Homo sapiens: one gene and its partners. The protein of the gene in region 3 purifies or fractionates together with the protein of the main gene of each other region. This does not show direct contact. Each region holds a gene or a part of one and is shown on either strand. Other genes may lie near its edges.

The links. Proteins that work in one complex are often made in the same cells at the same time.
Region 1: the proteins of POLR1B (region 3) and RPRD2 purify together in Homo sapiens (affinity purification with mass spectrometry, with the first as the bait; one large-scale study listed by BioGRID). This does not show direct contact.
Region 2: the proteins of POLR1B (region 3) and EEFSEC fractionate together in Homo sapiens (co-fractionation; one large-scale study listed by BioGRID). This does not show direct contact.
Region 4: the proteins of POLR1B (region 3) and TSR1 fractionate together in Homo sapiens (co-fractionation; 2 studies listed by BioGRID). This does not show direct contact.

The regions. Positions count from the first base shown.
Region 1 is NC_000001.11:150,465,147-150,468,646, reverse strand, and holds part of RPRD2 (regulation of nuclear pre-mRNA domain-containing protein 2), read right to left. Parts: intron 1-3,500.
Region 2 is NC_000003.12:128,341,981-128,345,480, forward strand, and holds part of EEFSEC (selenocysteine-specific elongation factor), read left to right. Parts: intron 1-3,500. UniProt on the Homo sapiens protein: Translation factor required for the incorporation of the rare amino acid selenocysteine encoded by UGA codons. Replaces the eRF1-eRF3-GTP ternary complex for the insertion of selenocysteine directed by the UGA codon.
Region 3 is NC_000002.12:112,566,465-112,569,964, forward strand, and holds part of POLR1B (DNA-directed RNA polymerase I subunit RPA2), read left to right. Parts: intron 1-293; coding exon of another isoform or gene 294-431; intron 432-1,502; coding exon 1,503-1,673; intron 1,674-2,281; coding exon 2,282-2,438; intron 2,439-3,500. UniProt on the Homo sapiens protein: Catalytic core component of RNA polymerase I (Pol I), a DNA-dependent RNA polymerase which synthesizes ribosomal RNA precursors using the four ribonucleoside triphosphates as substrates.
Region 4 is NC_000017.11:2,324,177-2,326,457, forward strand, and holds part of TSR1 (pre-rRNA-processing protein TSR1 homolog), read right to left. Parts: intron 1,245-2,281; coding exon 1,128-1,244; intron 1,089-1,127; exon of another isoform or gene 654-1,088; coding exon 513-653; exon of another isoform or gene 403-512; coding exon 328-402; exon of another isoform or gene 199-327; coding exon 20-198; 3' UTR 1-19. UniProt on the Homo sapiens protein: Required during maturation of the 40S ribosomal subunit in the nucleolus.

The sequences.
Region 1 (3,500 bases), on a different chromosome or scaffold from region 3:
CTTCAGCCTCCCAAAGTGCTGAGATTACAGGCGTGAGCCACCATGCCCAGCCTGATTTAATTCTTAGTAATCACTGTTCTCACAAAACCCAGAAGTCCTCAAACACTAGAATGTGATATATAATAATGTAATATGATTTTTAGAAGATATTTCAGCATATTTTTCAGATATTTTGGGATAACTTCTTCAAAAGAACATCTTTTTAAGATAGATATACTACTCAGATTTCTGGTAATAGGTAAAATTGTCTCTCACCACTAAATATTACTGTTCTCCAATCTTTTTTTTTTTTAATTATTTTTAAAAATTCTTAAAAACAATAGAGATAGGGGTTTTGCTATATTGACCAGGCTGGTCTCAAACTCCTGGCCTCAAGTGATCCTCCCATCGTGGCCTCCCAAAGTGTTAGGATTACAGGCATGAGCCACTGCGCCCAGCCAAAAGTTTGCTCTTTAATCATAACAAGTCATACTCTGCTCCTTTGCCCACTGAAGTTTCTCTTTTTTTGAGACAGAGTTTTGCTCGTCGCCCAGGCTGGCTCACTGCAACCTCTGCCTTCCGGGTTCAAGCGATTCTCCTACCTCAGCCTCCCAAGTAGTTGGGGTTACAGCTGTGAGCCACCACGCCCAGCTAATTTTTTTGTATTTTTTTTTGGAAAGACAGGTTTACCCTGTTGGCCAGGCTGGTCTTGAACTCCTGACCTCAGGTGATCCACCCGTCCCCAAAGTGCTGGAATTACAGGTGTGACCCACCACACCGGGCCTGAAGTCTCTCTTTTGTGTTATAAATCTGTCAATACCTAGGGCTGTGGATGACACAATCAGAACAAAGTTCTGGGATTTCATTAACAGTCTTCGAGGAAATACATCTATTTAACTTGCTAGATACAATCCTTTTAAAAGTCAAAGAGAATTCCACATTCCATAAGGAACCTAGTTCTGTTCAAATTTTGCCTCATCAGAAATTTCACATCGGCCAGGCACGGTGGTTCACACCTGTAATCCCAGCACTTTGGGAGGTCGAGGCAGGTGGATCACGTGAGGTCAGGAGTTCGAGACCAGCCTGGCCAACATGGCGAAACCCCGTGTCTACTAAAAATACAAAAATTAGCCGGGCATGGTGGTGTGAGCCTGTAATACCAGCTACTCGAGAGGCTGAGGCAAGAGAATCACTTGAACCCGAGAGGCAGAGGTTGCAGTGAGCCGAGATCACACCACTGCACTCCAGCCTGGGCAACAGAGCAAGTCCCCGTCTCAAAAACAAACAAACAAATAAAAATAAAAAGGGAGAAAGCATAAACATGTCAAACTCTCAAATTGTCCCTGATATTAGTAGTACAACATGTGCTGCAGTCATCATCAATTCTTTATTGCTGATGCCAATAGATAGGGGCTGTGGATTATTACTTAATACTATTTAGTTCTGTGTAACAAAATTCTTCTGCACCTCCAGACAAAGTTCACTATAATATGCTTGAATGATCCACTTACATAACAGTTTAGGAAACTGTTTTACACCACTCCTTTGATAGAGAGCAGGGTTTCTCAACCTCAGCACTACTGACACTTTGGGCTAGATAATTCTTTATTGTTGGGGCTGTCTCACACATTGTAGGATATTTAGGAGCATCCTCCTGGCCTCTACTCACTAGAGGCAGTAGCACCCCTACCATTACCCCAGTTGAGACAACTAAAAAGGTCTCCAAATATTGCCAAGTGTCCTCCCTGGAGGCCTTTGGTTGAGACTACTGATATAGAGTAAATCACTACACTGAATATATTGCCCTGGTATTTGTAATTCATTTCATAATTATACTACGGTACTTAAAAAGGATTTCATTGGTATCTGGAGCATAAGAGAGTAGAGAGTAGGAAAGATTTATGAAAAAAGGTTAGAAACAGGCAGTGTCATGCACAAAACATAATTAGTAAAGCTGAACAGAAAGGGTCAAATGAGAGAGATTATAGGTAGGTGAAAACAAAAATACTACATCTAAGACTCTAATAAAATAATAAATAAAATAATAAATAATGAAGCCTCTATAAAACATTAGGACAAAAAAAGATATATTCATGTCTCAGAAATTTTTTTTTTTTTTTTTTTGAGGCAGGGTCTCATCACTTAGGTTGGAGTACAGTGGGGTGACCACAGCGTACTGCAGCCTTGAACTCCTGGGCTCAAGTGATCCTCCTGCCTTAGCCCCCTGAGTAGCTGGAACTACAGGCATGCACCACTATGCCCAGCTAATTTTTTTTTTTTTTTTTTTTTTGAGACAGAGTCTTGCTCTTTTGCCCAGGCTGGAGTGTAGTGGGGCAATCTTGGCTCACTGCAACCTCCACCTCCTGGGTTCACACCATTCTCCTGCCTCAGCCTTCCAAGTAGCCAAGACTACAGGTGCCCGCCACCACGCCCGGCTAATTTTTTGTATTTTTAGTAGAGTCGGGGTTTCACTGTGTTAGCCAGGATGGTATCGATCTCCTGAACTCATGATCCGCCTGCCTCAGCCTCCCAAAGTGCTGGGATTACAGGCGTGAGCCACCGCGCCCGGCGCTAATTTTTAATTCCGTTGTAGAGACAGGGTTTCACTATGTTCTTGAAGCGTCATAAAAAAATTTTTTTTTTTTTTTTTTTTTTTGGACTGAGTCTTGCTCTGTCGTCCAGGCTGGAGTGCAGTAGCGTGATTCCGGCTTACTGCGATCTCAGCACACTACAGGTGTGTGTCACCACACCTGGCTAATTTTCATATTTTTAGTAGAGATGTTATTTCACCTGGTTGGCCAGGCTGGTCTTGAACTGCTGACCTTAGGTGATCTGCCCGCCTCAGCCTCCCAAAGTGCCGGGATTACAGGCGTGAGCAACTGCACCTGGCCATATTTTTTGATAATAAATGGACCCTTCCTACTGTCTTCAGCTTTGGTTAACACTGAAATTAATAAAACTCAACATATATAAACCTGTATTAAAAGCTGGGACTAATGCAGCCCCTAGGGTGTCATGGTGTAGGTGAAAGAATACTGAACTCCAGTCAAGAAATCTGGCCTTCAGTCTTGGCTCATACTGAATAGACAGATAGGTATGTGACCATAAGCAGATCTTTTCACCTTACTGAGCCTTAGTTTCCTTACCTGAAAAGTAAGGGATTAGACTAGATAATACTTAGTCTCTTTCAGCTTTCACATTTTATAATTCTTCAGATGTCAGCTCATAGATGATAAATATAAAAAAAATAGGAGGGGCGCAGTGGCTCACGCCTGTAATCCTAGCACTTTGGGAGGCTGAGGTGGGTGGACTGCCTGAGGTCAGGAGTTCGAGACCAGCCTGGCCAACATAGCAAAACTCCGTCTCTACTAAAAATACAAAAATTAGCTGGATGTGGTGGTGGGCACCTGTAATCCTAGCTACTTGGGAGGCTGAGGTTGCAGTGAGCTGAGATTGGGCCACTGCACTCCAGCCTGGGCGACAAGAGTGAAATTCTGTCTAAAATAAAAAAAAGGATAATG
Region 2 (3,500 bases), on a different chromosome or scaffold from region 3:
GGCCCTCAGAGACCTTCTGGTGCCAACCTCTGTAGTTTCTGTACAAGGCATCTGATGCCCAGAATGGTCAGGTGGCCACAGTTCTCTCAGCTGGTCAGTCACAGAGCCAGGGCCAGCACCTGGGCAGGGGGACCCCCACTGTACCCAATCCCACCCAGCTATCCCACCCCCACTTATTTACATGGTAGATGTGGCACCCATGGGTCTGAGCAGGTCTGGGCTCCCCCACAGCCAGTGTCAGATGGCAGCGGTTAGCACTGGCTTCCCTGGCCTGCTGCCCTGATCAGGCCCCACTCTCTTGACCTTGGTGGGCACTGTACCTCCATCCAGCTGGGATCTGCCCATGTGCCCCTGCAAGCTGCTTATGTCCAGAGGGAAACACTGCCCATCAGTGGTGCCAGGCCAGGTCTTTCCTCACCTGTGGACTGAGGGGAAGGGGCTAATGGTGGCCAGGTCTTTCCTCACCTGTGGACTGAGGGGAAGGGGCTAAGGGTGCCAGAGAGCAAGAGGAAGGAAGGTACAGGAAGCTGACACAGTGGGAGGTCCAGCCCCTGGCTACCTAGGGTGCCTGAAGTTCACCATCGCTAGATGCAGGCCTTAGGCATGTAGGTGAGCCAGTCTAGTTGAAGTAGGATGAGGCCCTGGCTGTGCCTTGCTGGGCGGCCCTTGGCCTTGTGCTTTCAGGGTGGTGCCTGCTCTGTCCCAGGAGACTCTGACTGGGCCCTGGGCCTCCCTCGGCTGGTCCTGTGGTGCATCAGCACCTGGGCCCAGTGCTGGGTGGGATGGGCCTGCCACTAGGGTGGACAGAACACGGTGGTCTCCCCCAAAGTAGTGGAATCACCTCCTCCCATGGGGCATCCATCCCCAGCAGCTGTCCACACAGTGCTGAGTGGGAATCCATGCCCATCGGGCCTTGAAGGCAGGATGGATGGACAGCCAAACCTTGCCGTCTCTTCTAGAAGGCTAGCTCCCTGGCTGTGGGTCCAAGCGGATCAGCAGCAGCTGTACTGGGACATGACTGGGCTTTGACTGGCTTAAAGAGCACGGAGTGCTGGCAACCCCACTGTCGGGGGCTCAGGCTCCTAGCAGGAGGGGTCTGCCCTGAGGCTTTCAACAAGGGCCTCAGTTCCTCACAGGAGCCTGATGAGGTCCCCTGGGTTTAGTGCAGGTGCCAGCACAACATCTGGCCCATCCACGGTGTCACATGTGGTGGGCTTCCATCGCCCACCCTCCGCTCCAGGTCTCCGTCCACAGGTTTTCTCCTCTGGGAGAAAATCCACTGGTTTTCTCGTCTGGAATTCTCTGTCACTGCAGCCCCTTCCCCTCCCTTTCTCCTTGTCTTAGGTTCTTCCTGGGTGCTCCACCCTGGCCCTCTTCTTTTCCTGCCCCTGTACCTAGACCTGCCCTCAAGTGGGGGACTGAGGAGCAACCCCTTCCTCTCCCTTCCTCAGACCCAGAGCTTGGACCCTTAGCTCCGGGGGGGCCGCTGGGGCCTGCTCAGGGCTCCATCAGCCTTAGGCCAGCCCCAAGATGCTGATTGAAGATGAAGGTGATAAAGTGTGTGTCACTCGTTTGTCTAGCCTGATTTATTAGCAGTGTTTGGAGTATAATTATTCTATAGTAAAATATCTATGAGAGAGTAATATCCCAATTGGTGTGGCTCCTGGGTCTAATTGCTCCCACTCAGGCCTGTCAACAGCGGTGCAGCAGTCACTTCCTTTGAGAACTGGGAGGGAGGGTCTGTGAGGAGCAAGTAAACATATGGCCTCAATGACTCATGCCTCCGAAGGGCTGAGGGAGGGGCCAGGAGACATGCCTGGCCTATGTCCTTCCACCAACCTGGGGCCACCAGCATTTTCCTGCTCAGTCCAGGGAGGCTGGAAGTGGAAGCACAAGAACTGTAGGCAGTCCACAGAAGCTGAGTCCAAATCCCATATAGACAACCCTGAGCAGAGACAGGCTTCCTCCAACCAGGGACAGCCTCACAGGGTGACTGTGGATGTGTGCAGAGGTGAGATCCTATGAGCCCAGGGCTTTGGTCGAGGAAGAAGGCCTTCCTGAGGCTCCACAAGGGAGGAAAGGGCATGGGTGCCCAGGCTAGGAGCAGCTCCCCCAACTCGCAACCCCCTGAGGCTCTAGCTGAATGGGCACCTGCCTTAATGCTAGGGGCTGGCTGTAGGCTGGGGCTTCTGTGCCACATGCTCTCCTCTGGGCCCCAGGGCAGGAATGAGCCTGCCTCCTGCCTCCCTCCACTCTGTCACCACTCTACTGATTAAGCATATACTATGCGCCTTTACTAGCTACATACTTTATTTTGAAACCGTTTAATAACCCTGAGGAAGAGGTCATTATTTTTCCTATGTACATTTTTCCCCAATTAAATCAATCAAATTATGTGCAAATATTTAGGAAAAGTAATATATGCACATGGTAAAAAATTTCAAACAAGACAATAATTATTCAGTGTAAGGAAGTTTTCTTCCTACGAACCCAGGTCCCCTCCCCAAAGGCAGCCAGACTGGAAACCAGCCCAAGAAATGTGAAGTGACCTGCCCAAGGTCACAGGGTAGTAAAGCTGGAGTTTGAACTCAGGACTAGCTGGTCTCTTTTGAGTCATGAAATTTCCACTTTGTCAGACAGATTCTTGCCCAGTGTGTCAAAAGAGTCTGCGTTCTCTTGAAAAGCTCGAATCTCCTTGGTGGGAGACTTTCCTTCCTGGTAAGGTGGAACTTGGAGATCATACAGAGTAGGCTCAAGCCCTTGCTGTACCCAAAACAGCTGTACGCCTTGGGCAGCCATTTAATCTCAATTGTTCATTCCTTCGAAGGATGGTCTTGACCTCATCAGGTTGTTTTGAAAGAGCCACCATAGCTTGTGGCTTCATATGTAAGAGCCGACTCTCATCAGGTGAAGCAAGAAGGTAGTGTTCCTGTTGCAGCTCCTGAGTGATTGGCTGAGTTTGTTCCAAAGGGGCAGCCCTGTTTGCTTTGAGTAGGCCCCAGATCACCCAGAGATTTTCAGGTCATCTTGCTTGACCAGGGGCTCAGCCATCCGACAGACTGGTCCAATGTGCAAGCCTGGGCTTTATTTACTCCCAGCCTTACCACCTGCTAGTGTGAAAAGTTGAGCAGACCATGAGACTTCCATGTTAAGTGGGAATTTTCACAGTGCTGCACCAGGGTTAGATGAAGGTGAGATGGGGGATTGCACATAAGGTTCTGAGATCAGTGCTTGTCTCCTACTGCATCGTTATTGTTTTATCATTATTAATGTTTAAGCTCTTAGAGTCAAAATAATAATGCCTGGAGCGTGGGTCCACTCTTTTCCCTGGGACTCCATTATTTCTCTTTGAAGCACAGGAGCCAATCCCCCTGGTCCCTATCAGGAGCCACACAGTTTTGGTTGAAGAGGGAGGGGCTGAGAGTCTGGTAGGCTCATGGGTGTGGTTATCCAGCGCAGGGGCCAGAGAAGTGCCCTATGCTCTTCTTTCCCCACCGTGC
Region 3 (3,500 bases):
TTTTCTATGTTTATTAGTTGCTATTCTGTAAGGGAGGGCTTTCTTTTCTATTAGTTGTTCATTTATTTATGTTAGCGTAGATTTATAGATGCTTGTTTAATTTTGTGAATATTCTGTTACTACTTATTTTGATGCTCAGAAAGTGTATGAGATTTGATCTAGTGTACAGTTGAGGGTTTTAAGTACATTCATGTTGTGGAGTCATCACCATCTTCAGAACTTTCTCATCATCACAAATTGAAACTCTGTAACCATTAAACAATCATTCCTCTTTTTTTTTTTTTTTGAGGCAGAGTCTCGCTCTGTCGCCCAGGCTGCAGTGCAGTGGTGTGATCTTGGCTCACTGCAGCCTCCGCCTCCCATGTTCAAGCAATTCTCCTGCCTCGGTCTCCCAAGTAGCTGGGATTACAGGTGCACACCACCATGCCTGGGTAATTTTTATATTTTTAGTAGAGATGGGGTTTCTCCATGTTGCCCCGGCTGGTCTCGAACTCCTGACCTCAAATGAGCTACCTGCCTCATTAGTCTCAGATTTTATCTTTTTTATAGAGAATTTATTTTCATTCTCTTTTTTTTGGTTAGCATTGTGGAGCATCGGAGGATGAGGACACTTAAGATCTGCTCTCTTAGTAAATTTCAAGCATGCAATATAGTATTCTTAACTATAGTCACATGCTGTACATGAGATCTCCAGAAACTTAATTTTGTTGCATAACTGAAGCTTTATACTCTTTGACCAACATCTCCCCGTGTCCCCCTCCACCAAACATTCTCTCATTTTTAATGATAATGCATCTAGCTGTGAATCCCCATGAGTTCTGACACATGGGTTTGTTGTTGTTGTTGTTGTTGTTGTTGTTTTCAGGTTTCTGTAATTTAGGTTTTTATTTCTCCTTTCACCCAGGAGTTTGTTGGAGTTTTTTTGTTTTGTTTTTGAGACAGGGTCACTCTGTCACCCAGGCTGGAGTGCAGTGGCATGATCATGGCTCACTGCAGCCTCAACCTCCTGGGCTCAAGTGATCCTCCCACCTCAGCCTCCCGATTAGCTGGGACTACAGGCACGTACCACCACACTCAGGTAATTTTTTAATTTTTGTAGAGACGGGGTTTCATCATGTTGCCCAGGCTGGTCTTGAACCTCTGGGCTCAAGTGATCCACCCACTTTGGCCTCCTAAAGTGCTGGGATTACAGGTATAAGCCACCCCCGGCCCACCCATGAGTTTTTGGTTTATTAAATTTACAAATAAAACCAGTAATCTACTGTATTTTAGATCACAGAGGACAGAATTTCCTTTAGTGTATCGACACGTGCATTCATGGTGTGCTTTATCCTTAGCCTCAGTAGTTAGTGATTTGCCTACTAGCTGGGGTGAGCACCCAAGGAAGTAGGGCTTTTACCATGGCTGAGTGTGGATGAGTGGTATTCCATGGGGCATAAGACTGGCAGCGACAGCCATGGCCTTGGGACAGGTTTGTTAAACTCTGTTTTTGTTAAAAACAGGTGTTGAGAGAGAAAAGAATTCCTCCCTGGATGGAAGTGGTCCTTATACCCATGACAGGAAAACCAAGTCTGTACCCAGGATTGTTCCTTTTTACCACTCCTTGTAGACTGGTACGGCCTGTGCAGAACTTAGCATTGGGCAAAGAAGAGCTAATTGGAACTATGGAACAGGTAAATACATATGTGTGATGGATGAGTGTATGTGCTTGTTTGTATAGTATACAACTTTCAGAGACTTAACTCTTCCTTTTTTAAAAGGGTTGTTAATGTTACAACAACAGTTGGACATTTGAAAGAAAGTCAGACTTTCCACCTCCTCTATGATCAGCACAGAGCAATTTCCATGTCTGATCTCACTCCACAGAACCTGAGAGAGGGCTGGTGGTCACATTACCTGCCTCCCATCTTATCTAGCTCCCAGAACTCCTTTGTACCTGGCTCTGCCTCAGCCGTGAAGTGAAAACATTCCATTAGATTCACACTCAGTCTTTGCCTACATATTTACAGTTGCAAAATTATAGGCTTTGTGCTACTTAAAAATTTTTCTTCCTATTCCCCTTCACAATTGGTCTGGGGTAGTTTTAGAGTGAGATACGTAAAGCAAGTGGTATTTCTAACTGGTCGCTTCCCTGTGCTTCCCAGTTGATCCCTTCAGCACTCATGATGCTGGGTGGGGATGGTTTTCTCTTGAGTCTTTGAGTACTGAACTCTGAGAAATGGTAAGAGTAAATGTGTAACCAGTTGCAGTTATTTTGTGCCTTGGACATCTGCTCTTCCAGATCTTCATGAATGTCGCTATCTTTGAGGATGAAGTTTTTGCTGGAGTTACCACACACCAGGAACTCTTTCCACACAGCCTGCTGAGTGTGATTGCCAACTTCATCCCTTTCTCTGATCACAACCAGAGTCCACGGAACATGTACCAATGCCAGATGGGTAAGGAAGAGGGATGATGTTACAGTCACAATCAGGAAAGTAAACTTGATACTAGCACACTCTTTTATTGTCCTTATTTACATATGCTGACCATTTGTTCCAAAAATACAGTTTATGGCAAGTTTTTCTTTTTTCTGTGCCACAAGCAACCAGCCCAGGATCACTCATTGTATTTAGTTGGCATGTCTATTTAGTTTCCTGTAATTTATGACAGATCTTTAAACATTCTTTGTCTTTGACATTGACATTTTTGAAGAAAAAGGTATAGAATGTCCATAGATTTGGGTGTGCCTGAGGTCTTATTATTTGATTTTTTGAAGAATACAAGCAATTATAGTCACCCGCATATTTATCACTTCCAGTCCTCTTCATTCCTGCTGCAAGATTCAAGTTTTCATTGTATACAATTTTCCTTCAGCCTGATAATCTTCCTTTAGCATTTTTTTATAGTGCAGGTTGCTGGCCACAAATTCTCTTTGTTTTCATTTATCTGAAAATGTCTTTATTTTGCTTCACTTGAAGGAATCTTTCACTGGATATACAATTCTGAGTTGACAGTTATTTTTCTTCCAACACTTAAAAGTTGTTGTTACACTGTCTCTTCTTAGTCTCTGTCATTTCTAGTTAGAAGGCAGCAGTCTTCTGAATATAGTGTGTTTCTTTTTTTTTTTTTTTGAGACAGAGTCTCGCTCTGTCGCCTAGGCTGGAGTGCAGTGGTGTGATCTCGGCTTACTGCAACCTCTGTCTCCTGGGTTCAAGTGATTCTCCTGCTTCAGCCTTCCAAGTAGCTGGGTCTACAGGGACTCACCACCACACCCAGCTAATTTTTGTATTTTTAGTAGAGACGGGGTTTCACCATGTTGGCAAGGCTGGTCTCGAACTCCTGACCTCAGGTGACCTGCCCACTTTGGCCTCCCAAAGTGCTGTATTACAGGCGTGAGCCACTGCGCCCGGCCTCAAATTTTGTTTTTTTTCAGTTTAATTAAATTGCTAAACTCTTCTGTCATTATTTTTAAAAACATTGCTCCTATCCTTTTCTCTCTTTCCTCCTCTTCTATCAGT
Region 4 (2,281 bases), on a different chromosome or scaffold from region 3:
CAGAATCTCTTTGAATCCATTACTCCATGCCCCCTTGAGGCACTGTTGAAGAAATCTCACTTTTCAGCCAGGGTACTGGTTCTGGTACATATGGATCATAAGTCCATTTGGGGAAGACTCGTTTATACAGGTTCATCAGTACTGTGTCTTGAGATTTTAGCTTCCCATCAAAGCTGCATTTCATGTGGCCATGGGTACCTAGAAAGACATCAGAACAAGTCGGTCAAATTAAAAGTAGAAAATTTTAAAGCAATGACTTCCAACCCAACAGTCATTTAGCAACACTGCAGAAATGCAGACATGGTCTCAAATCCCGTGTTTCCTTACCTAAAGGTTCCTTGATATGTCCTCTCCGGCCCCACTTCGTTCTCAGTTCCACTGGTTTAAACCACAGCACATCCTCTTAGAATCAAACACATTAAAGACCAAGATGAAACATTTACCCACAAAATGTAAACCCAACCTTTATACCACAAAGGCAATCAGATCCCATCCTCCTCCTTCATACCCACCTCTGTTGAAGAACATGTAACGTACTACTGCCATCTTAGTAAAAATTTTGAAAGGATGACCACTCAGAACAACTCTCTTGATGACCATTCTGTCTGGATCTACTGACATAAGATGGCCTGTAGCAATGAGGCTGTGCATTCCTAAAGGACAAAAGCAAAGAAGCTATTTAGGAATTTACAGGCCAAAGTCTTCATTTATTGCCCAGTCCATTTAAAGACCCATGCAAGAGCCTGGTTTGTCATCCCTGCCCTAGCCCAATCTGAGGCTAAGATTGGTAAACTGTAAGCCCACACTTAACCTTGTCAATAGGTTCTTGAAAACTTGTACTTCAAGAGAAATGATGTATAACAAAACCATACTTTTTCTCATCAGTTGTTACAAGGAAAGGATGTTGAACAAAAGGCAGTTATTTGAGGACTGGCTATACACTGTTTCACGTAAAAGTTGGAGTTTTCATTGTTCTATTAACAATGTTAAATGAAGACTTACTGTATTTTGAAAACCATCATTACCTTCTCCATACCATTTGGCTCCCAAATTTAAATAAACAAGAGAAAACGGTGTTCATCTATTAAGGACCTGCAGGGTCTGTTCATCTCTGTGGCTCAACTTACCATTGCTTTTTTGCTTGAAAAGCAGCACAGATGCAGGAGGAAAAGTGATTGGCGCATAGACTGTCGCCACCAGGGCCATGTCAGCAGTCAGGAATCTCTGCAATTTATGTTTGTCCGCTGCCATAAGGGTTAAAAAATGAAAAGCAAAACCATTTTGAGAAACCAGAGGTGATAGAGGCCTGTGAAAAGCTGTATTAGTGCAACTCTTAAACCTATGGCAGCTTCTACTTCTCTAAACCACCAGTTCTCAAAAATTTTCGCTGCCTCAATGCACCTAAAAGATACGATCTAGTCCTATCAGTAACTTTTTTTTTTTCTTTTTTTTTGAGTTTGAGTATCGTTCCTGTCACCCAGGCTGGAATGCAATGGTGTGATCTCAGCTGACTGCAACCTCTGCCTCCCGGGTTCAAGCAGTTCTCCTGCCTCAGCCTCCTGAGTAGCTGGGATTACAGGCACATGCCACCACGCCCGGCTAATTTTTGTATTTTTAGTAGAGACCGGGTTTCACCATGTTGGCCAGGCTGGTCTCGAACTCCTCACCTTGTGATCCACCCACCTCAATCTCCCAAAGTGCTGGGATTACAGGCGTGAGCCACCGCGCCAGGCTGTATCAGTAACTTTTTATTTATTTATTTATTTTGAGATGGTGTCTCGCTCTTGTTGCCCAGGCTGGAGTACAATGGTGCCATCTCTGCTCACTGCAACCTCCACCTCCCAGGTTCAAGTGATTCTTCTGCCTCAGGCTCCCGAATAGCTGGAATTGCAGGTGCCTGATCAGTAACTTTTTTATCTGGAGTCAGAATCTTGGAGCCTAGACTGTATTTGATGTTCTACCTTCAAGGTAGCCCTCACCTCCTTTTTAAAATACTAAACTTAAAGGAAAATAAAATATTTTAAGGCAAAGAAAAATTAATCTCACTTAGAGATTGTGATTCTCACAATTGGTGAGAATAAAAATTATCCAAAACACCATTAATACTGCTTTCTTCATATTCCTCCTGCCACTGCTGAGAGTGAGTGAACTAGGACGATGTTCAGAAGCCCCCAAGTTAGTGGGCAACATATCTTCCTGCTCCTACTGTGTAGGAGACAATCATTTCTGCTGCAAGTCCCGTCCAGTAGTCTCTCAGTATCTCAGGACCCCTACCTCTGCT